Linked DNA regions of Homo sapiens: regions 1, 2 and 4 are each reported to be linked to region 3. The links are microRNA targets in miRTarBase. Many come from high-throughput screens and were not tested one by one. Region 3 holds a microRNA gene; each other region holds the end of a gene's coding sequence.
What was found. Region 3 holds the annotated microRNA hsa-miR-619-5p (GCUGGGAUUACAGGCAUGAGCC, at 3,699-3,720, shown strand). A microRNA usually pairs through its seed, bases 2 to 8, with sites in the 3' UTR of a target mRNA and lowers its output. Matches are read on the target gene's strand: a 7mer-m8 pairs with bases 2 to 8, a 7mer-A1 pairs with bases 2 to 7 and ends in A, and an 8mer does both.

Region 1: miRTarBase lists THSD4 as a target of hsa-miR-619-5p. Seed matches in the 3' UTR shown: 8mer at 2,318-2,325, 7mer-A1 at 2,530-2,536 and 7mer-m8 at 2,583-2,589.
Region 2: the mRNA of SLC44A4 is a reported target of hsa-miR-619-5p. Seed matches in the 3' UTR shown: 7mer-m8 at 671-677.
Region 4: miRTarBase lists ZDHHC15 as a target of hsa-miR-619-5p. The part of its 3' UTR that is shown has no 7-base or 8-base seed match.

What each region holds. Positions count from the first base shown.
Region 1 is chr15:71,775,671-71,783,494 of GRCh38, forward strand. It overlaps THSD4 (thrombospondin type 1 domain containing 4), which reads left to right. Exons shown (of 18, transcript NM_024817.3): 18 at 1,562-7,713. The coding sequence ends at 1,704. Among named protein-coding and RNA genes, the nearest start is that of NR2E3, 31 kb to the right of the region's middle. RefSeq lists an enhancer at 6,290-6,379.
Region 2 is chr6:31,856,352-31,864,033 of GRCh38, reverse strand. It overlaps SLC44A4 (solute carrier family 44 member 4), which reads left to right. Exons shown (of 21, transcript NM_025257.3): 21 at 286-842. The coding sequence ends at 407. NEU1 (neuraminidase 1) reads left to right here and starts at 1,213. Exons shown (of 6, transcript NM_000434.4): 1 at 1,213-1,416; 2 at 1,843-2,035; 3 at 2,584-2,846; 4 at 3,413-3,595; 5 at 3,770-3,992; 6 at 4,089-6,375. The coding sequence starts at 1,258. The coding sequence ends at 4,315. RefSeq lists enhancers at 1-406, 407-1,032.
Region 3 is chr12:108,832,858-108,840,681 of GRCh38, reverse strand. It overlaps MIR619 (microRNA 619), which reads left to right and starts at 3,676; the gene lies at 3,676-3,774. The region is part of intron 2 of SSH1 (slingshot protein phosphatase 1); the gene reads left to right. RefSeq lists enhancers at 1,026-1,627, 2,187-2,316, 1,621-2,820.
Region 4 is chrX:75,373,764-75,381,587 of GRCh38, forward strand. ZDHHC15 (zDHHC palmitoyltransferase 15) reads right to left here. Exons shown (of 12, transcript NM_144969.3): 11 at 5,357-5,435. The coding sequence ends at 5,389. Among named protein-coding and RNA genes, the nearest start is that of UPRT, 100 kb to the left of the region's middle.

The DNA of each region.
Region 1 (7,824 bases), not on the chromosome of region 3:
ACTGTATTCCAGCCTGGGTGATACAGCGAGACTCCGTCTCAAAAAAAATAAAATAAATAAAATAAAATAAATAGAAGTTTATATGGAAGAGCAAAAGCAAGGAACCAAGAAGAGCCAAGGCTGTTTTGATGATTAACCATGTTGAGGGACTTTTCCTACCACATATCAAGGCATCTTGGCACAAGGATGGATAAAAAAAGCAAGGAGAGCAGAATAGGCCAGAAATACACATATAAAGGATGTGTGATATATGATGGAGGTCATATTATGAAGCTGTGGGGAAAAGATGAACAATTCAATAAATGGTCATGAGACAATTGTTTATCCATATACAAGGAAAAAAACAAGAAAACTGAACTCCCTCCTCTCATCCTACACATACCATACACTCCACAAACCCTAATTCCTGGTGGATTAGTCAAAAGAATGTGAAAAGAACATTTTAAAACTTTTAGAAGAGAACAGGGAAATTTATATTTTATTTCAGAGTACAGAAGGGTTTTTTAAATGAAACCAACAATTCCAAACCACAAAGGAAAACATATTATAATATCAATTACATTAAAATTAAAAATCTCTGTTTATCAATCAACACCAGAAGCAAAGTGATCAGAAAAGCCACAGGCTGAAGAAGATATTTGCAGCACATATAACCTAACTCACAAAGGATCAGATCCATTAGATATAAAGAATTTTCGTGAATCATTTTTTAAAGTTAACTAAATCAGAAAATGAGCAAAAGATCAGAAAAGCAATTCACAGAAAAGGAAGCTTGAATGGCAAATATACATGATATGTTCAGCCTCACGTGGGAATCATTTCACATTCACTAGCTCAGCAAAAACTAAAACATATGGCAAAAAGAGAATTCTTCTGTTTCACTGACAGGAACATAAACAGTTATACCGACTTTGGAGAGCAAACTGACTGTATCTAGCAAAGTTGGATATACCTTATGACCCAGCAAGGCCCAGGCAGAGGATGGTAACAAAACTACTTAAAAGCATTGTTTGCACTAGAAAAAAAAAATTGGATTAATGTCCAACTTAAATGTCCATCAATAGAAAATGATTAAATTGTGGATTATATACACAAGAAAATTCAATAATGAAAATATAGCATTCATCAAATATGAATGAATCGCACAAATTCAATGTCGAGCAAGTTGCCAAGGAGCTTATACAGTATGTATCTTTTATGTTTAAATGTCACAGAGTGGTGAGGGATTCCCTCACATAGAGTTTAAGTGTAAAGAAATGTTTGGGGATAAGAAACGCCAAATTTGGAACTTCTGATTACCTCTGGAGTGATGAGGATGAAGGAGGAAGTGATCAGAGAGAAGTGAGGACACAGATGAGTAACTTATTCTCTATACCTATTTCCCTTATCGTGTTTAAAAGAAAGAGAAAAACCTGTGAGCCCTTGGCACACATTCATACCCCACAATGGTAATAAACAGCAGCGCAGGAGTTAAAGCCACAGCCACTGCCCTTTCTCTTCCCACTGGTCCAGGCTGCCTCTTGTGCTCAGGGAGTCTTCTGTTCATTCTCTTTCGCTACAGATGAAAACTGCAAGGACAAGTACTACAACTGCAACGTGGTGGTCCAGGCAAGACTCTGTGTCTACAACTACTACAAGACCGCCTGCTGTGCCTCCTGCACCCGTGTGGCCAACAGGCAGACGGGCTTCCTGGGGAGCAGATAACACTCCTGCACCCCCATCAGTAGGGCAGCATCACTGCCTTCCCGGGGGCTTCAGCAGTGCGCCTGGCTGGCTGCTGCTCCACCACGGGCCCCCTGGCCCAGGCGCTGCCAACCAACTTAGTCACCACCCCTGCCTCCGGTGAATGCACCCCGTGGTACCCAGGGGCTTTTTACACAAGATGTTTGAAAGCCACAGTCAGTCCTTTAAGCATCACCATGTACTGATGATCCCCTCCTTGGACCTGGCATCTGCTAATGGTGCCCTTTGAAAGTCAAGCAGTGGGAAGTACATGGAGCTCTCAGCCCTGCTCCCATCTGGCACCTTCAAGTCAGCAGATGGGCCACTGACTGAGCACTGCCCCGTCCCTGGTGCTACTGGTCTTTCTAAACTTAGCACCCTGGAGAGTCCAAGGAGGCAGCGCCCCCAACCCAGCGCCCCACTAAGCCTTGCTGACACGCGTGCATCCCTCTGTGACCTCAGCCCAGATGTGCCTGTTTTCATTCTCAAAGACATTAGACTGTTTTCCTGCCCTATGACACAGATAGCTCACATGAATATTGTGCTTTATTTAGCAGGTGTACTCACAGATACTAGCTCCTTAGCAGCTCACAACATCCCAGAATGGGAGGCAGGGGGTGACTCATTATCCCCATTTTACTGACAGGGAAACTGAGGCTCAACTTAAGTAATTGACCTGCCAGGTATATTCACCCATCCAGTGGAAGAGCTGAGTCCCCGCCCCAGTCATCTACCAGTATCCAGCCTGGGGCCTGTACTTAGATGTGAAAGGTGCTGCTTCATTTCTGACCAAGAGACTGAGAAGTTTCCCAGAATGCAAACAAAGCCCAGGCCCCTGAAATCTTTCCGGTCAAGCCTTTATCCCAGCACTCAGTTGTTTTGGATGTCTGTTCCTACTTGCCCTTACCCCCAAAGTTACAGATCCTAGTTACAGGACTCTGCCAGCTTTGTTAAACTGTCCGTGAGACAAGAAAGCCATTGGGGAAACCAGGTGATTGCCTGAAATTCTTACTCCGTTCCAAGTGCTGTTCCTCCCAGGAAATCAAAGGCCAGGGTCCTTATGGCCGTGGAGCCTTCCCGACCACAGAGCCAACTTGTGAAGCACACAGCTCTGCAGCCTGGGCTCTGCCCTGCCTCAGCCGCCTCCCCCACGCTCTTCACCACGTTCCTGGAGAGTCCGGCCAACCTGTCCCAGCCGAAACACTGCTGTATTAGAAAAAGTCTCTTTCTGGTCTTTCTGGTTTTGTTTATGAATTTCCCTCTGTGGCCACAAATTCCTCCCCTCCCCCATGACTCACAGTCCATATGGCCCACCCCCAGACTTGAGCACCAAGCTCTGCATTAATGCAGTTGGCCTGCGACAAGGAGCTGTGGACCCTTCCCCATCTCTTCCAATTCACTTTCCCCAACTATCCAGTTCCAGAGGCCGCAGGCCTGGAAGGATGCAGTGCATATTGAAAGGTGGACCCTCTGAAAACAGTTAAGAGGAATATATGTATGTTTTACCCATTAAGAAAAAATGGCAAGCTAAACAAATGTTAAACTTACAGAAAATTTGTCTTATGGTCCTGAGCATATTTCCCTTTTAGAGCAAGCCTGGATTCTTAGCAAAGTGTTTCCCCCATTTGCTCTTTTAGCTGACAAATCTGCCACTGTGATGATGGTTTGCAGCTTTTGGAAGCAGTATGGCAACCTGGCCTGACATGCTCTTTAGGCTTCCACTAACCTGGGGCTTTCAGAAATTCTATTTGGCCTTTCTGTGGGTAGCTTTCCAGCTTCTCTTCTAGGGAGCCCCAGGCATCATTTCCCAAAAGCATCCCCATCTCCTGATTCTCTTGGAACTCCTACAGATAAGCATCCTGGCAGAGGCCCAGGCTCCCAAACCGACAAAGTGAAAAGAGACCAGAGAGGCCAAGCATATTGACTGGTGCTGTTCAGGGCCTGCTCTTTTCCACTCACCACTTGTTTTGCTGCTTGTCACGAGGAGAGTTGTTCCTGTATGTGGCTGCTCTCAGATCTTTCCAAGCAAGCCAGTCATTTGAAGAGGTTTTCTTTTCATGCTGGAGGGCAGGCTAAGATCAATGAGTGGAAGAGAGAAAGGCTGTTTTAGCTCAAGTTAAAGGAACACCTTCTAGCCATCAAAGCCGCCCAACAGAGGCAAGGGCCACCACACATGAGAGAGCGCTCTGTCCTTAAAGGGAATTCTCTGTTGAGTGGGAGGTGAACACCCTGGTTCTTCCAACTCAGGAATTCTCGTGGCTGGGCTGGGTCAGTGATGGCTTTGTCTCTTTATGTCTAAAGTGCCCTATGGCTGCTGAAGGTTACCTAACCATTCTTTAAAAGGAGAATGACCCTCCATGGGAATGGCCAGCCTGCCAACTGTGCAATTGAAGAAGACCCGATGGATCAACCCCATGTCTCCCTTGGGGAGAAAGTGCATAAACCAGGGGTCTCTTTTTTTTTTTCAACAAACCATTGAGCTGTTCTTGGAGTTCATCTCTGGAGAGGTTATACATTATTAGAAGTTTGATTATTATTATAGTTTGATCAATTTATTTGTCTTAGAGATCCAATTTTTACTAATTCCCTAGTTTTTTATTTCAGCATCTGAATGTCTTTCTCCCTAGCACAGTGCATACAATCAGGGCCTTGGGTATTTCCAGTGATAACTTTCCTTGGAGAGGATCTAAGAAAAGCCCAGATTTCGGTAGCCATCTCCCTCCAAATATGTCTCTTTCTGCTTTCTTAGTGCCCATTATTTCCCCCTCTCCTTTCTTCTGTCACTGCCATCTCCTTCTTGGTCTTCCCATTGTTCTTTAACTGGCCGTAATGTGGAATTGATATTTACATTTTGATACGGTTTTTTTCTTGGCCTGTGTACGGGATTGCCTCATTTCCTGCTCTGAATTTTAAAATTAGATATTAAAGCTGTCATATGGTTTCCTCACAAAAGTCAACAAAGTCCAAACAAAAATAGTTTGCCGTTTTACTTTCATCCATTGAAAAAGGAAATTGTGCCTCTTGCAGCCTAGGCAAAGGACATTTAGTACTATCGATTCTTTCCACCCTCACGATGACTTGCGGTTCTCTCTGTAGAAAAGGGATGGCCTAAGAAATACAACTAAAAAAACAAACAAAAACACCAAAAGAAAAAAAAAAGCCATTTAAAGCCAGCCACTAGAGGGAGTCAGTTCAGTTCCGTAAAGGTATGCTCAGTGCCCGCTGCCTGCAAGCTGTTGGGGACCCCAGGGAGGGCAAGGCAGCCTGTCCCCGCCCCCAGGGAACTAGAACATGACAAGAATTCTCCGCACTGTGCCTACCTGTCCCTTTACCTTACCTCTCTGGCCCAGAGTTCTTGGAGGGTTTTTTCTTTATTTTCTTATGTACTCATCTACTTATTCTCAAAGTATTTAGCATTCAACACTCTTTTTGCTTTAAAAAGAATGGCCTTACAAAGGGACAGAAAAGAGAAGACACGAGCTTGGTGTATTTTCATCAAGTTATGTGGCAGAGAAATCCAGATATTACCAGGACCTGTCTAAACAAATGTTGTGGGTTTTCTTTTCATTCGGATAGCCACTTTATAGTTGGAATATCAATTCTAATGAGGAGGAAGACATAAATATAAGTGGTAAAAAGAAACATGACTTCCCTTAAAACAGGCTGGATAATCTATATCAGCCTTGTGGGTGGAGACTAGTATTTGATCCTTGCCATATAAAACATTTTAATATGGTTTACATGGGAAAATATCGATGGCTTCCTCACAAAATGTATGGGTGACGTGAAGTTGAAGAGCCAATGGCTTGGGTGACACGTGCTGGATCCAAAAAGATCAGGGAGACTAGAATAAAACTTGGATGTTAAAAATTCACCAGGAATCCACATAAAGTACTATATTTGGGCTAAAATGAAAAACTAAATACAAGGTGGGAGAGAGGCAAGAATTTCAGTTGACTAAGCTCAGTGTGAGTCAAAGTGGGATGGAACCATGCAAAAACAAAACCCACAGACATGCAGGCTACGTGAGGAGAAAACAGTGGTGAGGATCACATCACATTGTGTTTGCATTTGCCGGAACCATACTTTAAGAAGAAAACCGATCATCTATAATAACATCAGTTTATCAATGCCCCGTCCTGATGAAGTGTGCAGACTCTCAGAAACAGCAGGAAGGACTTCATGAGAACCCTCAGGCTGGAGAAGGCACTAGGGCACAAGGAGAGCTCTCCTAGGACCAGGACCAAGAAGCTACAGGCAGGCACAGTTTAGCTCCTGCAGAGACCCAGCTTTTCACAAGTTGGAGCCTTCCAGAGATAGAGGGACTGTGGTAGGTGGTGACCCACCCATCACTGGAGGTGGAAGCAGAGGCCGTTTGCCAGGGATGCTGGAGAGGGGATTCAAGCATCTGGCTGGGCAACGTGATGCTCAGGGCCGTCTCCACTCAGGGCTTAGGGGAGTCTGTGAGTAGAAGAGCTTTAGGTGATTTGTTTGGTGGGGGAAGGCAAGTACACAGCTATGCACTTTCCGTTTCTGACTTTTGCCACCCTGTCAGCCATGGGGAGCCCACTGTGGGACTGAAACCCTGAGCTGAATGCGGCCTCATGTCTCAGAGAAACACTGGCAAGTTGGTCAGAGCCGCCGTCTGCATCGAGGCGTAGCTGAGCGGCAGGATGGGGGGCTGCCTGCCCAGGGTCTCTCACCGTGGTGTAAGCAGAGCCATGGCTTGCCTAGGACCCTATAGATACCATCACTCTTTCTCAGCTCGACTGGAGTTTCTGCACCTTTGCAGGGGCAAAGTAACTCCCTGCACCCTGAACCACCCCCCATTCCTGTTCATTTCAGCAGATAATGATGGAGGGGGGGGGTGTCCATCGTGCTGAGGGTGTGACCGCAAGAGGGTGAAAACTTCCAGCCAACTTTCTCAGTCCTTTCTCTTGCGAGAGGGAAGCCACCTGCTATACAAACTAATACCCCCTGCCTTGACCCCTTCCCCACGACTCAGTTGACAGAAGGATATACTTTGTTATAACTTATTATTTTGTTCTCTGTAAATACAAGATGTTTATAGGAAATATGTATTCTGAACTCTATCTGCAGAATGAGTCACTACACCAAAATAGTTCTATTATTTAGAATGTGTTAATTTTAAAGGGACCTGATAGGTATTTATTTACATATGCGATCCACATTTGTGTGAAAGCATGTGATCATACTAACCCAGCCTCCTGGAATGTCGCTGTACGATGATTGATGTCTTTTTCTCAGTCCATAGTTACAATTGTTTAGTATGCTAATCAGTCCAGTTCCCTGAGGTTTAAGATCAAATATAAATTACTCTGCTTTTCGACTCATTCAGGTAGCATTGTACCTGAACCTGATTGCTACTTTTTCATCTTAAATATTATATTTCCTCATCTAATCTGCCTTCCCCTCATCCACAGACATTTGGAGAAGGAAATGGGAGGGTGTCTGTTATCCCTTTCTCTTTGCTTTGTCCCCGTTGTTAGACTGGCAGCGTCAGTTGCTCGGTGGGCTTGGTTAGAGCCGTGGGTGAGGCAGGTGGCTGGCGGGGACAGGGAGAGGCTGAGAGGGAAGTGGTGGCATTTACTGCTCTGACACTTCCACTGTCCCTGCTGGGGATGCTGGGGCCAAGGCCTGTGGGGCCTGTGAACTGCACAGCCAGGAGCAAGGAACCCACTAAATACTCCGTCACCTCCATGTCCCCTCTACAGTGTTAAATTATTACATAAGCAGGTGAAAGGTAGAAGGCGAATTATGTGAGTAAATATGGTCTGTTTTCTCTTCAGCAAAAATGACTATTTTTGTGTGTGACTAATTTATTTTTATTATTGTAAAGATACAATAAACCGGTTGAAATATCTGCTTTGTTGACAAGCGTGTGCTTTCTCTGGCCTTATTCGCGTTCTGTTCTCCTGCAAATAGCGCCCTCTAAAAAGAAGAGTCAGACAATAAACTGGTTGAAATATCTGCTTTGTTGACAAGCGTGTGCTTTCTCTGGCCTTATTCACGTTCTGTTCTCCTACAAATAGCCCCCTCTAAAAATAAAACTCAGACCCTTGAGAGGTCAGCCGCTTGTAG
Region 2 (7,682 bases), not on the chromosome of region 3:
CTGTAGCGGCAGGGGATTTTCTTACTCTACAGCATGCATCCATTCAGGGTTTGCCAGTCTCCTCCTAAGCGACTGACATGCATTTTTTCCGCTAATTCTTATCATCGCTCTATGCAACATAATATTCCCGACCCCACTTCACAGGAGGAAACTGAGATTACATAACCTGCCCGGGGGTAAGGGTGGTGGTGCAGCTTGGATTCCAAATCCCGCAGGCAGCTTGCCTCCCAGTCCCCGATTTCCTGGCCCCAGGGTCCGCTCTAACCGGTCTCTGTTGCGGCTCAGTGGAAGACCTGGAGCGGAACAACGGCTCCCTGGACCGGCCCTACTACATGTCCAAGAGCCTTCTAAAGATTCTGGGCAAGAAGAACGAGGCGCCCCCGGACAACAAGAAGAGGAAGAAGTGACAGCTCCGGCCCTGATCCAGGACTGCACCCCACCCCCACCGTCCAGCCATCCAACCTCACTTCGCCTTACAGGTCTCCATTTTGTGGTAAAAAAAGGTTTTAGGCCAGGCGCCGTGGCTCACGCCTGTAATCCAACACTTTGAGAGGCTGAGGCGGGCGGATCACCTGAGTCAGGAGTTCGAGACCAGCCTGGCCAACATGGTGAAACCTCCGTCTCTATTAAAAATACAAAAATTAGCCGAGAGTGGTGGCATGCACCTGTCATCCCAGCTACTCGGGAGGCTGAGGCAGGAGAATCGCTTGAACCCGGGAGGCAGAGGTTGCAGTGAGCCGAGATCGCGCCACTGCACTCCAACCTGGGTGACAGACTCTGTCTCCAAAACAAAACAAACAAACAAAAAGATTTTATTAAAGATATTTTGTTAACTCAGTAAATCTGTGACTCATTCTCTCCACGACGACAGGCGGCCTTTTTTTTTCCGCGCCCGGCTCTTTAAAATCGGCCCCGCCCCTGTGACGTGTCCTGGTGCCGCGGCCAATCAAAAAGCCCAATAAGGATGGTGCCAGTCCCTTCTTCACCCCAGCCAGTCCGCTTCCCGTTCGGGTCACGCGCTCCGGGCCTCCAAGAGGGCCTCCAAGAGGGCCAATCGGAAGGGCAAGCTTCGAGATGCTGCGTGATCACGTGGGAGGAGATGAGCTACTTGAAGACCAATTAGAGTCCGGGAAGCGCGGCGGGGCCTCCAGACCGGGGCGGGCTTAAGGGTGACATCTGCGCTTTAAAGGGTCCGGGTCAGCTGACTCCCGACTCTGTGGAGTCTAGCTGCCAGGGTCGCGGCAGCTGCGGGGAGAGATGACTGGGGAGCGACCCAGCACGGCGCTCCCGGACAGACGCTGGGGGCCGCGGATTCTGGGCTTCTGGGGAGGCTGTAGGGTTTGGGTGTTTGCCGCGATCTTCCTGCTGCTGTCTCTGGCAGCCTCCTGGTCCAAGGCTGAGAACGACTTCGGTCTGGTGAGTCACCCTTTGCATAGCCCCATCCCCGACCCGCGCAGGTGATCGACACCTAGTGTCCCCCGGAACGCGGGCGGCTGAGCCGACTTTCCGCGACAGGACCCTTTTCTTTCTCCCAGACCCCGTTTCCTCCTACCGCTCCCAGCCCCTCTCCCTCTCCGGGTCCCCGTCCTTCTCCTCATTCGAGCCCCTTCCTCTTTTGGGGTCCCCTTCCCTCCCTGAAGGCGCCTTCTCCTTTCGTAGACCCTCCCCTGCTCCGAGCCTCCAGCTTCGCTCCAAACTCCCCTTCGTGTTCCTCTTTCTTGTTCTGGGACCCCATCCCCTACTCGGGATCCCCATTAGATCCTCCCTCTCCCATCGGAACGTGGGTTCCTAAAACCCCCAAGACAAGTTTGTCTTTGTTGACCCTTCCTCCTCCCATGACAGGTGCAGCCGCTGGTGACCATGGAGCAACTGCTGTGGGTGAGCGGGAGACAGATCGGCTCAGTGGACACCTTCCGCATCCCGCTCATCACAGCCACTCCGCGGGGCACTCTTCTCGCCTTTGCTGAGGCGAGGAAAATGTCCTCATCCGATGAGGGGGCCAAGTTCATCGCCCTGCGGAGGTCCATGGACCAGGGTATAAAGATGTCTGGGTGAAAGAGCCGGTGCTAGGTTGGATGGGTGGGCAGCCCAATGAGCCCAAGGGCCCTGAGGATAGGGGAACTTAGAGGGTTGGTTGCCTGAGTCCCTGAGGGGTAGAGGGAACCCGAGAAGGGCAAGTGTCTAGGACAGTGATCTGGAAATTGGGATCACCAAGGAGTTGGACATTCACTTAGCAAACATTTATTGGGTACTATATACCTATACCAGGCACTATTTTAGGTTTCATGAATATAGCCACGAACAAAACAGATCAAAAATCTCTGCCCTCAGGATTTAAATTGTACTGGAAGGAGACAGACAAGCATAATAAACAAGTAAACTTTTTTGTCTGTTGCAAGGTGATAAATGCAATGGAGAAAAATAAAACAGGACAAGAGGTATAGATAGTGCAAGTGTTGGATTGCACCCTGGGACCATCGGAAGGCCTGAGGTCCCTAGCAGAAGGTGGGAAATTAACGGGAAGTGGTAGAAAGGGTACCTGCAGAGTGCTCACTCTGGGTTTCTTCCTCCAATTTTTTTCAGGCAGCACATGGTCTCCTACAGCGTTCATTGTCAATGATGGGGATGTCCCCGATGGGCTGAACCTTGGGGCAGTAGTGAGCGATGTTGAGACAGGAGTAGTATTTCTTTTCTACTCCCTTTGTGCTCACAAGGCCGGCTGCCAGGTGGCCTCTACCATGTTGGTATGGAGCAAGGATGATGGTGTTTCCTGGAGCACACCCCGGAATCTCTCCCTGGATATTGGCACTGAAGTGTTTGCCCCTGGACCGGGCTCTGGTATTCAGGTCTCTGTCCTAGGAGATAGGTGGAGGGGGCTGCCTTGTGGAGAGTCTGAGGGATACCCCCAAATGGACTCCTTTCCAAGGGGAAGATTCTCTGAAGTCAGATTTTCTGGCTTGGGTGGGATTCCTTGAAAGACAGGGCATCCTGGTAGGAACACATTATCAGGAGAAGAGGGAACTCTGCCATTGGCTTCCCATTTGGCATTGTCAACAGGACTGCGTTAGTCCATGCAATACCCTCATGCAAAGTAGAAAAAGGCACTGCCTCTTTGGACAGACACAAGCCTGTGCCAGGGTGCACAGCTTGGCGAGTGAGCACAGGTTGGGTTTAAGCTCTCATGCACCCTGTGGCTGGGCCCCTGGTGCACATGTCCAGCTGTACACCCTGGGAGAGCTTCTTAATTCAAACAGGGTGTGTATTTATGGGATCTGACTGGAACCCTCAGTGAGCAAGGGCTGAACTCAAGGGGACCATACATGTGATTGCATTTGGGAAGTGGTGGGTTCTCTGTCCCTGCCTCTGAGCCCCTAGAGTCTCCTTCTGTGACACCCAGTTCCCTTTCCCACAGAAACAGCGGGAGCCACGGAAGGGCCGCCTCATCGTGTGTGGCCATGGGACGCTGGAGCGGGACGGAGTCTTCTGTCTCCTCAGCGATGATCATGGTGCCTCCTGGCGCTACGGAAGTGGGGTCAGCGGCATCCCCTACGGTCAGCCCAAGCAGGAAAATGATTTCAATCCTGATGAATGCCAGGTCAGGAGTCCATGAGATGTTCCCTACCCATTTGACCCTCCCTGCCCTCCAGAACATCATTTCACGCACAGACCCAGGGTCTGACTGCTCCACTCAGTGCCACACACCCTTGCTCCCCTCGGGGACAGGGCATTTTCCCTGTTCCCTCCCTGAGGTCCTGTCCTCTCCCCTCAGCCCTATGAGCTCCCAGATGGCTCAGTCGTCATCAATGCCCGAAACCAGAACAACTACCACTGCCACTGCCGAATTGTCCTCCGCAGCTATGATGCCTGTGATACACTAAGGCCCCGTGATGTGACCTTCGACCCTGAGCTCGTGGACCCTGTGGTAGCTGCAGGAGCTGTAGTCACCAGCTCCGGCATTGTCTTCTTCTCCAACCCAGCACATCCAGAGTTCCGTGAGTGCCTCATGGGTGGGGTCAGCAGGGAGAGCCCTGTGTCTAGACAAGGCCTGGGCAGAGACCCTCTCTCCCTGACTCTCCTGCTCTCCCCAGGAGTGAACCTGACCCTGCGATGGAGCTTCAGCAATGGTACCTCATGGCGGAAAGAGACAGTCCAGCTATGGCCAGGCCCCAGTGGCTATTCATCCCTGGCAACCCTGGAGGGCAGCATGGATGGAGAGGAGCAGGCCCCCCAGCTCTACGTCCTGTATGAGAAAGGCCGGAACCACTACACAGAGAGCATCTCCGTGGCCAAAATCAGTGTCTATGGGACACTCTGAGCTGTGCCACTGCCACAGGGGTATTCTGCCTTCAGGACTCTGCCTTCAGGAACACGGGTCTGTAGAGGGTCTGCTGGAGACGCCTGAAAGACAGTTCCATCTTCCTTTAGACTCCAGCCTTGGCAAAATCACCTTCCCTTTACCAGGGAAATCACTTCCTTTAGGACTGAAAGCTAGGCGTCCTCTCCCACAAAAAAGTCCTGCCCTCATCTGAGAATACTGTCTTTCCATATGGCTAAGTGTGGCCCCACCACCCTCTCTGCCCTCCCGGGACATTGATTGGTCCTGTCTTGGGCAGGTCTAGTGAGCTGTAGAATTGAATCAATGTGAACTCAGGGAACTGGGGAAGGCTGAGCCTCCTCTTTGGTGTTGCGGTAAGATAACCGACAGGGCTGGTGAAAGTCCCCAGATGGCAGGATATTTGGTTTCAGAGTAAGGACTAGGTGCACCACCATGACTGACTATCAATCAAAATGTTTGTAACTTAAAATTTTTAATGAAGGATAATGAATATTTGTAGAGTCTCTATGGTTCTGTCAATGCACATCTTCGTGTCTGTTTTCCTCATGTATCCTTGTGAGCCTGGGTGAGTTCTGGGGAGAGACCTGATGTGCGTACTGCCTGTGAAAATCTGACTTTGGCAAATCAAATCCTCTTTTCCTTTTGACATGCCCTCTTTTTTTGTTGTTGCTTTTTTTGAGACAGGGCTCGCTCTGTCACCCAGGCTGGAGTGCAGTTGCACAATCACGGCTCACTGAAGCCTCAACCTCCTGGGCTCAAGTGATCCTCACGTCTCAGCCTCCGGAGTAGTTGGGACTACAGGTCAGTGACACCATGCCTGGTTAATTTTTTTAATTTTTATTTTCAGTAGAGACAAGGTTGCGCTATGTTGCCCAGGCTGGTATGGAACTCCTGTGCTTAAGCAATCCTCATGCCTCAGCTTCCCAAAGTGCTGAGGTTACAGCTATGAGCCACCGCACCCAGCCTACATTCCTTCTTATCACCGAGAAACAGGTTGATCTTCACAGGTGTAATGAGTATGAAGGGAGTGCCATAAGATATTTTTTATTTTTTATTTATTTATTTTTTAATTTAATTTTTTTTTTTTTGAGATGGAGTCTTGCTCTGGCACCCAGGCTAGAGTGCAGTGGTGCGATCTCGGCTCACTGCAACCTCTGCCTCCCAGGTTCAAGCGATTCTTCTGCCTCAGCTTCCCGAATAGCTGGGATTACAGGTGCCCACCACCACACCCGGCTAATTTTTGTATTTTTAGTAGAGACGGAGTTTCACCATGTTGGCCAGGCTGGTCTCAAACTCCTGGCCTCAGGTGATCCACCCGCCTCGGCCTCCCAAAGTGTTGTGATTACAAGCATGAGCCATGGTGCCGGCGGGCTGATTTTTTTAATTTTTAGTAGAGACAAAGTCTCACTATATTGCCTAGGTTGGTCTCAAACTGCTGAGCTCAAGCAATCTGCCGGCCATGTTCTCTCAAAGTGCTGGGATTACAGGCTTGAGCCCCTGCACCCAGCCTGTAAGATATTTTAAAATCCACACTTGGCCAAGCGTGGTGGCTCACACATATAATCCCAGCACTTTGGGAGGCCAAGGTGGGCGGATCACAAGGTCAGGAGTTCGAGACCAGCCTGGCCAATATGGTGAAATCCCATCTCTACTAAAAATACAAAAACTAGCCAGGCGTGTTGGCTTACACTTATAGTCCCAGCTACTCAGGTGGCTGAGGCAGGAGAATCACTTGAACCAGGAGGCGGAGTTTGCAGTGAGCTGAGATCACAGCACTGCACACCAGCCTCGGCAACAGAGTGAGACTCCGTCTGAAAAAAAAAAAATCCACGCTGTTTTATATTTCTAACATGGGGTAGGATACCATCCTCCATGAAATAGGGTGCAAGTGTGTGAAATGCAGATGGGAATCCTGTCCCAGCTAGCCTGACAGAGAAGTGAGCACTTCCTATGGCAAATTATGTAAGAAAATATTCCCCAGGCAGATGCTTATGAAAAGAATCTGTTCAGCCTGCAGGTAAGTGGGAGAGCCCTTGCTCAAAAAAAAAAAGAAAAAGAAATAGTGGAAGACAAAAAGGAAAGGACACTATGAATGTCTGACCCATGAACTACTACCTGTTAGAAACAGAAGTGCTGGGAGGCTTGAGAGACAGACACTACCTTCCTGGCTAGGTGTGGTGGCTCAGATCTGTAATGCTAGCACTTCGGGAGACCAAGGCAGGATGATCAAATTAAAGGGCATCCTGGGCAACATGGCAATACCCCATGTCTAAAAAATTTAAAAATTAGCCAAGCATGGTAACGCACACCTATAGTCCTAGCTACATGGGAGGATGGCTTGATCTCTTTGACCCCAGGAGTTCGAGGCAGTAGTGAGCTATGATTGCACCACTGCACACCAACCTAGGTGACAGAGTGAGACCTCATCTCCAAAAAACCAAACCAAAACAAAAAACCTTCAAGAAAGAAAAAAAGCTTGACCTTCCCTCCCTCACTCTTTACAGACCCATGGAATCTGAAGCTCTGGTGTTGGAGCCACCAGGCATTAACAAGCCTTCTGGGTGATTCGTAATACGTTTAAGTTTGAAAACCAGGGTCAGAACTTTTAAACAAGTGCAAGTGTCCAGCTAAAATGAATTATATGTATGTCAAAGTTGCAGAAATAGTTAAAGAACCTTTTTTTTCCAGCTTTTTTTTTTTCTTTTAATACACAGGGAAGGGTCAGGTGCAGTGGCTCACGCCTGTAATCCCAGCACTTTGGGAGGCCGAGGTGGGCGGATCACAAGGTCAGGGGTTCTAGACCAGCCTGGCCAACATGGTAAAACCCCATCTCTACTAAAAATACAAATATTAGCCATATGTGGTGGCACACGCCTGTAGTCCCAGCTACTCGGGAGCCTGAGGCAGGAGACTCACTTGAACCTGGGAGGCAGAGGTTGCAGTGAGCCGAGATTATGCCACTGCCCTCCAGCCTGGGCGACAGAGCAAGACTTCATCTTAAAAAAAAAAAAAATACACAGGAAAGATTGGGACAAGTGGCAGGAGACTGAAAGGGGAAAGAGCTTGTTTGTACTAATGGGACAAAGTGGGCCGACTCTGGGCACACTGCTTATGAGTTAGCTCTACTCTGTGAGGAAATTTTTTTTTTTTTTTTGAGACGGAGTCTTGCTCTGTTGCCCAGGCTGGAGTGCAGTGGCGCAATCTTGGCTCCCCGCAACCTCTGCCTCGCTGGTTCAAGCAATTCCCCTGCCTCAGCCTCCTAAGTAGCTGGGATTACAGGCGCCTGCCACCACGCTCGGCTAATTTTTTGGTATTTTTAGTAGAGACCCGGTTTCACCATGTTGGC
Region 3 (7,824 bases):
AGACAGCTTATTAGAAAATTCCTGAGATGAGGAGGACATCCAGATGGGTCATGCTGCTTCAAGGAAGGCTGAAAATGAGAAACCAGGATTAATCAAAATAGGATTAATCAAAATCCAGAGGAGCCATTTTCTTTTTTTTTTTCTTTTTTTTGAGACAGTCTTGCTCCGTCACCCAGGCTAGAGTGCAGTGGCACGATCTCGGCTAACTGCAACCTCTGCCTCCTGGGTTCAAGTGATTCTCCTGCCTCAGCCTCTTGGGTAGCTAGGACTATAGGCTTGTACCACCATGCCTGGCGAATTTTTTGTATTTTTAGTAGAGATGGGGTTTCACCATGTTGGCCAGGCTGGTCTTGAATTCCTGACCACAAGCAATCCAACCACCTCGGCCTCCCAAAGTGCTGGGATTACAGGCATGAGCCACTGCGCCCAGCCCCCGAGAGGAGCCATTTTCAAAGCGAACTGAGCGATTGGGCTGGAGGGTGCGGGGGCTCCTGCTTTGTGGGTGTAGTCAGTGTCGGGATGCAGGGTGATGTGCTTATGAGGAAGCCACGCTGGCCAGCCTGCAGTGTGGGGGCAGAATTGCAGTGAGATACAAGAGACTGCCGCATAAATGAGGACATGCCGGGAGAGCCTGCGTGTGGTCAGAGCGGGGCTTCTGGATGGGGCATCGGCCTTGCCACTTAGCTCACTTGCATGTCTGACCCTGGGCCCACCACCTGCCTTCCTCCTCTCAGGGCCCTCCTGAGGCCTCCAGAGAGTCTTGTTCTGTGTACAGTGTCTGGCCCTGGCCTATACCCAGTGGCCATCATTTTCAGTGCCAGCCCTTCCTGCCGCACTTGTTCCCCTCCAAAGACCAATGTTAACCAAGTGACACCTAAGAGGAAAAACCCAGCCTTGACCTGTTTTCCTGCAAGTTCCTCTGAAACCTGTGCCAGGCTTTTATCTGGGAAATATCATTCTTGAGTGCCTTTACTTTTACAGTTTTTTTTTTCTTTCTTTTCTTGAATGGTTACTTTTGAAGCTATTTTTAGAAAGACTTTGTTTCAGAGAAGGCTGTTCAAGGTCCTGTGTTAGGAAATGCCTGGTCTCTCCCTGTGCCCACAGAAGTCATTCCTGGTCCAGGCCTGGCACGCACTTGCCAAGAGTCCTCGAGGCGTGTTTCCCCAAATCTGGGCCCCATCAGAATTCCCACAGGAAGGGGCCTTCAGTGTGGTCTGGAAAGAGCCAGGCTGGCTGCAGCATCTGGAAATCACTTGTCACTTCCCCAGTGGCCAGGCCCACCCGTGCCACGCTGTGTCTGTTGCAGCTGGGAGTCTAGGAGTGGCTCTTTAGGTCTGGAGTCAAGGCCACTGACCTGTTGGCTGCCCCTACAGCAAGAAGGCTCCCTAAGGAACCTAATTCCCAGGCCCTGGGGACTCCTGACCAGGCCCCACCTCATGAGATGGAAGGGAAAAGAACCTCTTGTGAAACAATATGGTAATGGAGGTGGTTTTTACTTAGCTATTGGCTTTTTCCATTCAGCCCATGTGTATTTAGTGCCTAAATATGGGTTCTTTGCCAAATGCCAGGGATTCTGTGTGGAGTCAAAAAGAGTCCTTATCCCTCAGGGGTAATGTGTGTTGTATCTACAGTAGTGCCCTCCAAAAAGGATTTGAAACACCTTACAACATTCATAGAGAACAATAGAATGTAACATTAGTGAGAAAATCGGGACACGAAGAAAGCAGAAGAAAATAAGATGAAGTAAGGGGAAGGTTTGTACATGTAATACATGACATAGCATTGGTATGGTTACCAGAATTTGGCCACAGATCTGACTTTGAGTTTCCTGGTAGTCAAAGCAAAGAGAGAAACAAGACCAATCTCTTGATTCTTGGTGTCCTGAAAATACCAGCAGATCAGTTCCTCGGAAGAACTCTTCCTGATAGATACCTGTGGTGTTCACAAGGAAGCCCAGCATAATGGATGGACAAGCAAGTTGTCTTAACAGGGAGAGCTGATGCTGCATGCCTATCCCACCAATTACCCTGGGTATTTGTGGTCTTAAGAGGTGAGGTCAGCAGCAGCACTTGGTGCCAGAGCTGCTGGCCGCCCCAGCACTGAGACAGGATGCTGAGTCACATCCTGCAGGGCTGCGGTATCCTGGCTTCGCGTGCCCTTCACAATAGGAGGCCTGCACGGGCAGGTCAGCCCCTGCTGTTCCAAACATGTGGTCTCCGAGCAGGAAAATGCTAAAATTAGATCTTACGTGGTCCAGAGCCGTGTATGTGAGAGGCCCTCAAAACCTGGACACACACAGACCAGGAAGACCTGGGAGAGCAGAGCTCTTCATCGTTCTCTTCTGCTCTGGGCACGAAACAGGGCCACTTCTGTTCTGGAAAACACGAAGAGGGCAAACAGTGCTGAGGCAGGGAAGGTCTTGCTTGGTGAGGGTAAAACTATGCAAGAGATGAAAGGGCAAAGTCATGAAATATGCCCATACCAGTGATCAGTAAAATCATCTGAAGCTTTTATTACCTACCGATAAAGAAAAATTACAGGTCGTGTTTTACCAAAATCGAATTAAGTGGAGATTTAAAAAATAACTTTAAAAAATTTGGCTGGGTATGGTGGCTCATGCCTATGATCCCAGCACTTTGGGAGACCGAGGTGGGAGGATCTCTTGAGCCTAGGAGTTCAGTACCAGCCCTGGCAGCATAGTGAGACCCTGTCTCTACAAAAAAATTAAAAAATTAGCTGGGGGTGGCAGCACACACCTGTAGTCCCAGCTACTTGGGTGGTTGAGGTGGAAGGATCGCTTGAGCCTGGGAGGTGGAGGCTGTGCTGCGTGAGCCGTGGTCGTCCCACTGCACTCCAGCCTGGGCGACAGAGTAAGACCCTGTCTCAAAGGAAAAAAAAAAAAATTGGTAACTCGAAAACTTGTAATGCTCCCAACACATACAAATGATTAATACTCAAGGTCATGGATACCCCAGATACTCTGACTTGGTCATTACACAGTTTATGCATGTAACAAATACTTACATGTTTTCCATAAATATGTAAAATACTACGTCGATAAAAAATTCTCGTTAATTTTGAGATAATTTCCAGCTTACATAAGAATTGCAAGTACAGTGAAAAGAACTTTCTTTTTTGAACCATTTGAAAGTAATTTGTCAACCTGCTACTCCATTACCCTTGGAATACAGACCAGGGCATTCTCCCACAGAACCGCAACACAGCCATCCACGCGGGACACTGACTCTGATGCATTCCCACCGTCTAGTCCTCTAACCCCATTCAAGAGTCACCATATGTCCCAGCGTTGTCCTTCATAACAAAAGATCCAATTCAGGACTGCCCATTGCATCTAGTTATCCTGTCTCTTGGCTCTCCTGCAGTCTGGAACCTTCCTCAGTCTTTCTTTGACTCTTGTGGCCTGGATTTTATTTTATTTTTTTATTTTTTGAGTTGGAAACTCACTCTGTCGCCCAAGCTGGAGTGCAGCGGTGATATCTCAGCTCGCTGCAACCTCCACCTCCCGGGTTCAAGCGATTCTTGTGCCTTAGCGCCCCAAGTAGCTGGGATTACGGGCATGCTCCACCACGCTCGGCTAATTTTTGTATTTTTAGTAGAGAATAGGGTGTTGCCATGTTGGCCAGGCTGGTCTCGAACCCCTGACCTCAAGTGATCCGCCCACCTCAGCCTCCCAAAATGCTGGGATTACAGGCATGAGCCACTGCGGTCGACCATGACCTGGACATGTTTGTGCCCAGTACTGTCAGTTTGCAGAGTGTCCCTCAGTGTGAGTGTGTCTGATGTTCTTGTGTGATTCCACCGGGCACGTGTATTTGGCTGGAACATCACCCAAGGGATGCTGCGTCCTCGTTGAATCCCATAAGGTGGCACTTGATTTCCTTTTGTCCCACTATGGTGACATTCACTTTGGTCACTAAGGTGGGTTTTACCAGGCTTTTCCACTGTACAGTTATTCTTTTCCCCTTCATCATTCAGAAGCATTCCTTGGAGAGATACTTTAAAATTATGTTAATATCCTGTCTGCCATCAATGTCCGTTTCAATTCTTTGTATTTTTCTGTTTTATTCAGTGGTTTATAATCTGCTCTTAAATTGTTGACATCCTTGCTCAAATTGTCCTTGTGGACAGTTAGGGCCAGTGGGATCTCATCCAGGCTGGCTTCTGTGTCCCTTTGACATGTCCACATCATTCTTTAAGTGCTTTCTTGCTTTCTGGCAACAGATGCTCCCTACCCACCTGTGGAATCAGTCCTTTATCCAAGGGGCTCTGGTTCCTTTTAGTGGAAAATGAAATTTAGGAGCCAAGCTAGGTCTGCTTATTGCTGTTGGGGTGTTGCTAACCACAGGCCTCTCAATGGGCAGAATTAGGGAACATTTGTATGTACGTGCATACACACACACGTGCATCTATATTTATTTCAATAGGTTGAAAACTATGAGTTCAGACTGGTACCTTCAATTCTGATGCAGCACCTTGGGGTTCATTCTAGTTTTGTCTCTCCATATTCATGACTCCCATTGTCCCTGAAATATTAATAAATATTAACATTATGCATATTATATAAACTTAGGTATTATTTATATTATATAGTATATATTTGTTAATATTGATTATATTAATATTAATATAATCGATTATATTAATATAGTTATAATCGATTATATTAATATAGTTATAATCGATTATATTAATATAGTTATAATCGATTATATTAATATAGTTATAATTGATTATATTAATATAGTTATAATTAATTATATTAATATAGTTATAATTAATTAATATAATATGTATATATGCTATATATCATAAATATATTAATTATAAATATTAATATTAACATTAATGTTTAATATTTCATTCCTTGCCTGTGAGCAGTCTCTGTCTCCCTTGCAGCCCCCTCCCTGCACAGATGCCCTTTGCACCCTGCTTGCCAACAGACACCTCAGCTTGGGATCCCACACCCCCTCCCCAACTCAGAAGCTTGCCCTGCCCTTCCCCGCCAAATGGTTTTTAGGTCTGAATTGTTGGGAGGAGAAGTGGACTTTTTTGAGACTGTTTTCCAGAGGTATCAGTTCAGCTGAAAGCCAGTGCCTAAGAGCAGAGGTTTCAGAGTTACACTCCTGCCTTCCCCTTCCTGCTTCCCGGCTCCTTGGTCTCATGAACTTGGGCAGGTGACTTAACCTCCCTGAGCCTCAGTGTTTGTTTGTTTTGTTTTCTGTTTTTTTGTTTTTTTAAGACGGAGTCTTACTCTGTTGCAGTGCTGTGGCACAATCTCGGCTCACTGCAACCTCCATCTCCTGGGTTCGAGTGATTCTTGTGCCTCCCAATAGCTGGGATTACAGGAGCACGACACCACGCTCGGCTAATTGAGCCTCAGTTCCCGTATGTATAAAACACTGAGAGATGGACACTGGGGAATAAATGAGTTAACATACCTGATGTGCTTAGCATAGCGCTCAACGAAGATGTTATTGGTGTTACATTTATTGATGTCCACTGTTTTCTGGGCACTGAGAGGGATCCTGAGACAGAGAAGTCATAGGCCTAGCTCTCCAGACACTCAAGGTGATGTGGGGAACTTAGCTGCTGTTGTGTTATTTGAAGCACTCAGTTGTCAGGAAGACCTGACCTGACCTCCAGGTGGCTTTAACTCGCACGTGGCATGATGCTGTGAGTCTTATTTGCCAGGTTCAACCTGTGTGTGGGGAGTGCCCAGTGTGCCCAGGGCACAGAGATGACCAGGGTGAGTTACTCCTGGAATACTGACTTCAGAGAAGAGCACAGCTTGGCCAGTGTATCTACCAGCACTTACTTTCAATCTACTGTATGTCAAGCACAGAGGGAGATTTAAAAAGCATGTGCATCCTGGCCCTCACATCCCATTGTGAAGTTAAAATATACTGGCAGGAAGATGGCTTCACCACTAGTTAGTAAATAAGTGGGTCAGGGAACACGATTTGGAAATGAGGGAACTTGGGTTCCTAGGTTCCTATCACTAAGGGTGGTCTTTCCTTCAGTATCCAAGGGGATTGGTTTCAGGACCCCCGCCTTTGCCGAGGATAACAAAATCCATGGATGCTTAAGCACCCGCAGAACCCACTAATTCAAAGAGTTCAGCATCCCTCAAATACTGTATTTTCTGTCTGTAGTTGGTTGAATCCACTGATGAGGAACCCGCGGATACAGAGGACCGACTGTATGTGACCTTGAGCAAGTGACTTAACCCTTAAGCCTCAGTGTCCTCACCTGCACAGTAAGAGGAGGTGCTAGAAGATGTTGAAAGGGAGGAGCTATAGCTCACAGCGAGGGCCACAAGAGAAAGCTTCCTGGAGAAGGCATAAACACTGGAAGACAGGCATGACGTCGGGAGGCAGATGGGAGGAAGGACACCATGAGCCGAGAACCACAGTAGGCTTTATGGGGACAGTGCTATAGCTGGGGATAGAACAGAGAATGCGAAGCATGGAGAACAGGGGGAATAGTGCGAGAGGTAATACAAGAATGGTTTTTTATTCTGAAATACTGTTTTCTAACTATATTCTAAGCCCCTAAGGTCAGGACATAGCAGATGAATGAAATTTAGGTTAACGACATACAATGGCTAATTGTGGCAACCCATAGAGAGTTAGCACAAGAAGTTTGGACTCTAATCAATAGATGATGTCACATGGCTAAAAGTTCTGGGGCTGGGAAAGAATGTCATGAGAGCAATGGTTAGCGGCTGTGCAGAGTGGGCGAGAGGCCAGGGAGGCGCTTGTCCTGATTCTTCTCACCAGGCCAAAAGCTTCCGGAGCTCTGCTGTCCTATACCACAGCTGATAGCCTCATGTAGCTAATTAAACTTAAATTTAAATTAACTAAAATGAAATAAAATGACAAACCCAGTTTCTTGGTCACACTTACTGCATCTTAAGTGTTCAGTCAACACATCTGGCCAGTGGCTCCCATACTAGACAGAGAGTGGGTAGAGAATACAACAGCCCTGGCCTTCAGGGACATTCAGAGAATGCAGCACAGAGCCGGGTGCACCGTGGGGCTGCTTGGATGTCGCCTGGCTCACGGGGGTGAGGAGGGCCAGAACTGGGTGGTGCCTGAGAGACCTGAAAGGAGGGGCCTCTGACAAAGTTAGGACTCGGTGACAAATGACTGTGGTATGGGGCTGCATACCATAGACAGGGCTGAGAACCTGGGACAGTCGGGATAATCTCTTCTCGGAATTTTTGAGCTGTCTCAGAAACATTTCCTTCATGTGCCTGTTATTTCTGGCGTGTTTGGCTGTCTTTGCTGCCATAGCATTTCCCGCACAGTGCAGCCTTTATACCTTCTGCCCTCGTGAAGGGGCTTAGATCCTGGTAGAGCAGATGATGCTTGGAGGAAGATGCATTAGCTCCAGCTTCCATGGGGCCTGAGGGCTCTTGGGGTCATCAGGGAACTATCTTAAAATTTGCTAAACCAAGCCAAGACACATCACTTGCTGTCTTATTTAGGGAGAAAAAAAAAAAAAAGCTTGCTTTTGCGAGCTCGCTGGTCAGTTCAGCTGCTTGCCGCTACCCGTTGGTTTGAAGGAGAGCTGTGTAGCTGGCTCAGAGAATGTCTCTTACTGTCTGAAATACTTTTGGACATTCCTTCTCTCTGAGAGAAGCCTACGCCTTCTAGCCAAACAATACATGTTCCAGCAGCAAAGATATTTGTAATGAGCCCTGCCAGCATTCCTTGTCTGTGACCCCTTTCCCTAAGTATAACGCTCTGCAGAGCTGGAATTTTTCTATGCTCAGCATTATGTGTTTAGGGGGGTACAATT
Region 4 (7,824 bases), not on the chromosome of region 3:
ACATTTTGGTAAATGAGGTATCCATCACCTCAAGCATTTATCCTTTGTGTTACCAACAATCCAGTTATACTTTTATAGTTATTTTAAAATGTACAATTAAATTATTTTTGACTATAGTTACCCTGTTGCCCTAGCAAATACTAGGTCTTATTCATTCTTTCTGTTTTTTTTTTTTTTTTTTTTTTGTAGCCATTAACAATCCCCAATTCCCCTCCAGCACTCACCCCTCCACTACCCTTCCCAGCCTCTGGTAATCATCATTCTACTCTCTAACTCCATGAGTTCAATTGTTTTAATTTTTAGCTTCCACAGATAAGTGGACATAGATGAAGCTGGAAACCATCATTCTCAGCAAACTAACACAGGAACAGAAAACCAAACACCACATGTTCTCACTCATAAGTGGGAGTTGAACAATGAGAACACATGGACACAGGGAGGGGAACATCACACACCGGGGCCTGTCGGGGGCTGGAGGGCTAGGTTTGGGATAGCATTAGGAGAAATACCTAATGTAGATATACCACGGGTTGATGGGTGCAGCAAACCACCATGGCACATGTATACCTATGTATCAAACCTGCACGTTCTGCACATGTGTCCCAGAAGTTAAAGTATAATTTAAAAAAAAGGGAACCTCCTTAATCTGATAAAGCTATCTAGAAAGAATGAGAGAGTGAGCATCTACCACACACAGGGACAGGATAGAAAAATGGTTCATTAAAAAAAAAATTCTATGCCTACCATATGACTTAGCCATCCTACTCCTTGGTACTTACCCAAGCACAGGTTCACACAAAGTCTTGGTCACAAATGTTTATAGCAGCTTTATGTGTATGAGCAAAAAACTAGAAACACTTCTGATATCCATTAATAGATGGAAAAGTAAATTTTAGTGTGTGTGTGTGTGTGTGTGTGTGTGTGTATATATATATAATATATGTATATATCCAGTGGAATACTACTCATCAATAAAAAGAAATCAATTATCCTTACACACAGCAACAAAGGTGAATCTCAATTATGTTGAGTGGAAGAAGCCAGACAAAACAAAAAAATACATTTGTACAGATCTACTTGTTTAAAATTCTAGAAAATGAAAACTGATAGTAACGAAATAAATCAGTGTTTGCCTGGTGATGGCGCAGGGGTTATTTATAAAAGTGCAGAAGAAAACCTTTGGGAGAGATGGATATATTCATTATTTTGATTGCAGCGATGGTTTCACAGATGTAAACGTATTTCAAAACTCACCAGATTGTATATTATAAAAGTATATAGTTTTTTTGTAGTATAAAGGCACAAAAATGCAGAATAAAATTAAAGTGCTAGTTTCTTTGAATTAAAAAAGTATGAGATTTTAATGTTTTTATACGTGTTTCCAAGTTGCACTCAAAAAATGATCTATGAATTTAAACTCACATCAGCATTGTATAAGAACATCTGTTTCAGCATGTCCTTGCCTACAATAGGTACTGTAATTTGTAAAAATTGGCTGACTTAATAGATAAAAATTAGTATTTTAGGTTATTTTAATTTGCATTTCTTTACAGTGAAGTTGAACAAGTTTAATGTTTATTTTTCATTTTAATTTCTATTTTGTTGATTGTTTGCATCCTTTGCCCATTTACTTTTTACAAAATTTGAAAATAATTTCATCTTTTATTTTAGATTCGGGGTACATGTGCAGGTTCGTTAGGTGGTATATTGTGTGATGCTGAGGTTTGGGGTATAGATCCCATCACCTAGGTAGTGAGCATAGTACCCAATAGGTAGTTTTTCAACCCACCCCCTTCTGTCCTTCCCCAACTAGTAGTCCACAGTGTCTATTGTTGCCATCTTTGTTTCCATGGGTACTCAATGTTTAGCTCCCATTTATGAATGAGAACATGCATTATTTGGTTTCCTGTTTCTGTGTTAATTTTCTTAGGATTATGGCCTCCAGCTGCATCCATGTTGCAGAAAAGGATAAGATTTCATTATTTTTTATGGCTGTGTAGTATCCATCATATACATGTACCACATTTTCTTTGTCTAGTCCTCTGTTGATGGACACCTAGGTTGATTGCATGTCTTTGCTGCTGTGAATAGTGCTGTGATGAACATATATGTACATAAGTCTTTTTGTTAGAAGGATTTATTTTCCTTGGGTATATATACCCAGTAATGGGGTTGCTGGGTGGCATGGCAGTTCTAAGTGTTTTTGAGAAATCTTGAAACTGCTTTCCACGGTGGATGGACTAATTTACATTCCCATCAACAGTGTATAAGCATACCCTTTTCTCTGGAGCTTCACTAGCATCTGTTATTTTTTGACTTTTTAATAATAGCCATTCTGACTGGTGTGAGATAGTACCTCATTGCGGTTTGGATTTGCATTTCTCTGATGATTAGTGATGATGAGCATTTTTTTTCATATGTTTGTTGGCTGCTTGTATGTCTTCATTTGAGAAACGTCTGTTCATCATGTCCTTTGCCCATTTTTAATGGGGTTGTTTTTTTTTTTTTGCTTGTTAAGTTCCCTATAGATTCTGGATATTAAACTTTTGTCAGATGCATTGTTTGCAAATATTTTCTTCCATTCTGTAGATTGTTTTTGCTACTGATAATTTCTTTTGCTGTGCAGAAGCTCTTTAGTTTAATTAGATCCCACTTGTCAATTTTTGTTTCTGTTGCAATTGCTTTTGGGGACTTGGCCAAAAATTCTTTGCCAAGGCCAATGTTGAGAAGGGTATTTCCTAGGGTTGCTTCTAGGATTTTTATAGTTTGAAGTCTTACATTTAAGTCTTTAATCCATCTTGAGTTAATGTTTGCATATGGAGAAAAGTAAGGGTCCAGTTTCAGTCTTCTGCATATGGCTAGCCAGTTATCCCAGCACCATTAATTGAATAGAGAGTTCTTTCCTCATTGCTTTCTTTTGTTGCTTTGCCCATTTTCTAACTGTTGTGTTTTTCTTTTGTTTACTGATTTGCAAGAGCTTTGTAAATTAAGCATATTAAATTTTGTGTGTTGTATAGTTTGCAAATATTTTTCAAGTTTGTCTTTTCATTTTGAAGAAAATATAATCTAGAATAAGTACATTTTTGGGGTAAAAATTATGGCAATAATTTTTTATATACAAAATTTAGAGGCAAAATGAAAAAATTAGCATTGATTCTACATTTTAAACACAAGGGATTCATGTTTTCTTTCATCCTTTTTTATTTAAAAAACTTCAAAAGAAAATGAAGGGAAATATATATTAAATATCTAATTACTTGGACATATATAATGTATTAATGCATTCTTCTACTGATAGACATTCAGGTTGTTTTCAGTTTGGAGCTTTTTACAAATATCACTGTAGTAATTATCTACATACAGTTTAAACAATTCTTCATATCTTAATAAGTTTTAAAAGGTTTCTCCCACTCTTCCCTCCTGTGTTCCCAAGTACTTTTCTATTATTATCAGAATATGAGGCCCGGCACGGTGGCTAATCCCAACACTTTGGGAGGCCGAGGTGGGCAGATCACTTGAGGTCAGGAGTTAGACACCAGCCTGGCCAACAGGGAGAAACCCCATCTCTACCAAAAATACAAAAAGCAGCCGGGCGTGGTGGCACACACCTGTAATCCCAGCTACTTGGGTTCTGAGGCAGAAGAATCACTTGAACCTGGGAGGTGGAGGTTGCAGTGAGCCGAGATCACTCCACTGCACTCCAACCTGGGCAACAGAGTGAGACTCCATCTCAAAAAAAAAATATATATATATGTATATATGAGTTTGTGATTTCCACAAAATGAATCACTTTATTAATATATTTGGACAGAGTGCCCTGTAAAAGGCATAAGGCATTGCTTGAAGGCAATTTTGCTTATCTAGGGAAGTATATAAAAAATGCATTTCAAAGTTCCTTAGCATATTAATGGTCCTGATAAGTATTGCACGAAATACTAGGTTCCATGATAGGCACAAAAAAGAAAGGATCCAACAGTTAAATAAAATTTAAGGGACCACTACAACCTCCTTTTGGTGAGCCACAAAACTCAATAGTGTAGTAAAACCCCTGAGAATTCCTACACTAAAGCCAACTTTCTAATTTTGCTTATATAGGGTTTTATAAATTTATTTACCAGATAATTTTTCTTCCCTTTAACATCTGTTACCATGCCAAAGTAGTAGTGTTTCCCCTAGGAAAATACTAAAATAAAATAGACAGATTAGCACCACAGATAACCCAAATCTAGATATTACTATCATATAAGTTGTCTTACCTAAACATCAAACATTTCATCAGGGCTTTGGATAAGGAAACAGACTTGGTTCTCTCCTTTTTTAATCTTTGATAATAAATAAAGACACATCACAAATAACTCAGATTTTGAAATGTAGTGCCATGGTGGAAATAGCATGCTTTGAGGTCAGATAGACCTGAGTTACAACCCTAGGTTGGCCACTTACTACATATGCAGACTTGGATAAGTGATTTAACCTCTCTGCATATCAGTTTTCTCATAAGTAAAATGGGAATAGTAACATTCATCTTACAGTTGATGTGAGGATTAAATAAGATCATATATATCAAGTACACACCAAAGTGGCTGGCATATACAAAGTTTTATACAATATGTACACTTGTACACAGCAGAATTTCTGTAAGGGAAAGAACTGAAGACCTGGGAACCCACGAACAGATTGTAAGCTTCTGAATAATTGCTAGCTTTTTTCATGAGAATAGGATTAGAAGTTTCATCCGATCAGAGCTATAAGCTCTATGGTATTTCTATTACTAACATTCTTTTAATATTTAATTACACTGGGTTTATACCTGTGAGTGTTGCAAAAAGAAGGTCGTCGAGCTTTTCACCAGGCCAAAGAGAATCCCATGTGTAAAGTTGTCTGCCACTACTTAACAAACTCATAGCATTTTAGGAGGGTTACAGTGTAGGAAGGATGCTTTTTTGCCCTTAGTGGGGAAGACTAGGTTATTAACTGACATAATGGAGTCAGGCAAAAGAAAGCTATTTGTAATCTGTACCATTTCAGAGACCTGGAATGAAACAGGAGGAGGCTTATAATTCACAGTATGAGAGTAAATAACCTTAACGGAATGTTTGGGTGTCTGGATCCCCGGAGTTTTTTTCAGCACAAGTGACATAAGTGTGAGTTTGCAGGGAATAAGGGCATCTTTTTTTTCAGCACACTGCCAAGGGAAATTATGTATAGAACTTCTGCTTATGCATGCATTACAAGAGTGAAGAATTTAAAATCTTTTTCACCCAGGATAAGAACTTATTTCTTTTCTAGTTCTTCTCCCAAGCCGCCTTCTTAGCAGTCCAGGTGCCACTGTATGTGTCTCCCTCAGAATACTGACCTGTCTGAGAGATGCAGGAAATGTGAAAACTGCTATGTTTCCGTTTCCACAGCAAGAGATGATGAGCCTTCTGGATAATCTGCAAGGTTGAAACGTGAAGATGATCAAATGTCCCCGTGCCTTATATGGGTGGGTATTCATTCACTGGCAGTTTTCCTTCTTGTTCAATCTCTGCAGGCAACAGATACCTGCAAACCTCTAAAGACTGATGTGTAACACAGAAGCATTTGTAACCAGACATTCACATTCTAAGAATAGTCAGCCTGCTATACTATGAACTAAGATTATTTATCAGCATTATCTGATCTATAATACTGGCTGGTATTTGACTTAAATAGCTATGATGACAGCTCAACATAATCTGACTTTAATGGAATGTTTTGCATCTTGCTACCCACAAAATTACCCTGTTTTGCTGTTATTCCACCGGACATAATTGAGTTAGCTATTACAGTACTTTAGGTGATGGTGTGTTTCTAAAAAAGGAATGAGGTATCTAGAAAATAAGAGGCTTTGGGATTAACAAGCAACATCATTTATGGTACAAATGTTTTTGTTTCTGACCTCCAGCCTTTTGGGAGAGCACACTCTGAATCAGCTTGCTGAATGTACAGGTAATCACTTTTCTCATACTCACAGCATAATAATATACTTGGCATTTTGAGATTAAAAAGTTGACAGTAGCCATCCCCTACAGTTTCTGCACAGCACAGTGTCTTTTATGTGCCATTCAGAGTGCTTTCTTAAGTGTGAAATCTAGATTCCTAAAGACAGAGGCCAGCCAGTCAGTGTGAGTTATCCTTGCCACAGAAGGCTGCAAGCTCTCATGCCACTGAGTTAAACAGGCAGATTCCAGACAGCAGGTTGCTTTCTTCCAGGAAAACTGGAAAAATAAAAGTGGCTCTGAGAATGTCTCTTTGGAATCATGACCCTATGGTAGGCCCAACATTCTGTCTTGTCTGGAATCCTAGCCTTAGGGTATTCTTCCCTTTAAGTTTGGGCAGAAAGCAAATGTATTGGCCTAGGTCTTCAGTGAAAGATACACAGAAAATAACTTTATGTTTATCAAATAAAGAGAAAAAGAGGTTGCAAGTGCTTAAGCATATATCTCATCTTGCCTACCCAACATTTCTACTAAGAAGGCAACTGAAAAATAGTGAAAGACAGTTCTGAAAGTGCAATAAATTTCCTTGCCTTGCTGTTCCAAAGAAGTGATGCTAATTCTTTCAATGTTCACTCCTTGCTGATGGTTGGCTATTTCAGAATTTTTAGGTGTGGTTTGGTGATGAACCTTTCCAAAAGTTGGCTGTTTGGATTCTGCTTTTAGGATGCTTTTACCTTTTCGTACTGCAACATACACTCTTATTTGGCACAGAAAATTTTTCCTCCAAGCAATTATTTGAATTAAAATCCTGCTCTTGTAGACACTGAGGCTTGAGCTGAAAACCCAATTATCAACTTTGGTTTCACTCCCAGGATAAGATTAAGCTAAGGTTGCAAAGGTAGCTCACCGGGTGAGGACTAAATTAAAAAAGGAAGATACCTAAAAAAAATCAGGCTCTGGGTAATAGAAGACAAACACAGAATTTAGGGAGTCAATTCACCTTCACCTCCTACCATCTGCACCTATACTCCTTCCCCCAACTACACCTGCCCTTGCTGCCTATGTAGTAGTGATTTCACTTACTCAATATATGTCTACTTGAACCAAGAATGATGTTATTTTAGTCTTAGTGTGTGCTGGTTAAGCTCTGGCTCTCTTCCTGTCTTCTCCTAGATCTCCTTTACTTTAAAATTCTAGGTTCTCACATAAACCCTTGATGCTATGTGAAGTGACTTTGGCAGTATAGGTACACTTCTTTCTAGCCATTGGTTCTCAGAGATTGGGAAGAACAGAGCAAATGACACAGTGGAGTCTGGGAAAACTTAGGTTGAGTCACCACTGCTTTATGACTTTATATAAGTCGCATTACCTCCCCAGCCTCAGCTTTTTCATCTGTAAAATAGGGGCAATACTCTTTCATTCATAGTATTTTTGGGATACTCTACCCCAAACTATGAGCATTGTGTAATGTTCTATTCTTGACCCTCTGGCTTTCTCTTCCTCATTTATTTCCTTGTCCATGTGGATGCATGTCAACACTGCTTAGGTGATTACTAGTTTTACATTTTATCTTTCTTCCCTAGTTTTATTCTCTCCTTATTGATTCTTCTTTACCTCCAAGGATTTAACTGCCATCTCTATACAAATGACTCCCAGATCTCTCTAGTTAGTGGGACTATTTCCAGATACTTAAAATGTCTCTTGGGTTTGATCATTCCTCTCAATTTATAGTGTTACTACCACTCATGAATCCATTGCAACACATGCACAGTTTTTTGCTGTTCTTTCCAGTTCTTGTCTCTCCAAATTTCAATCCATCCTGCATACTAGCACCCAAGTAATCTTTCTAAAATTAACCTTTCCT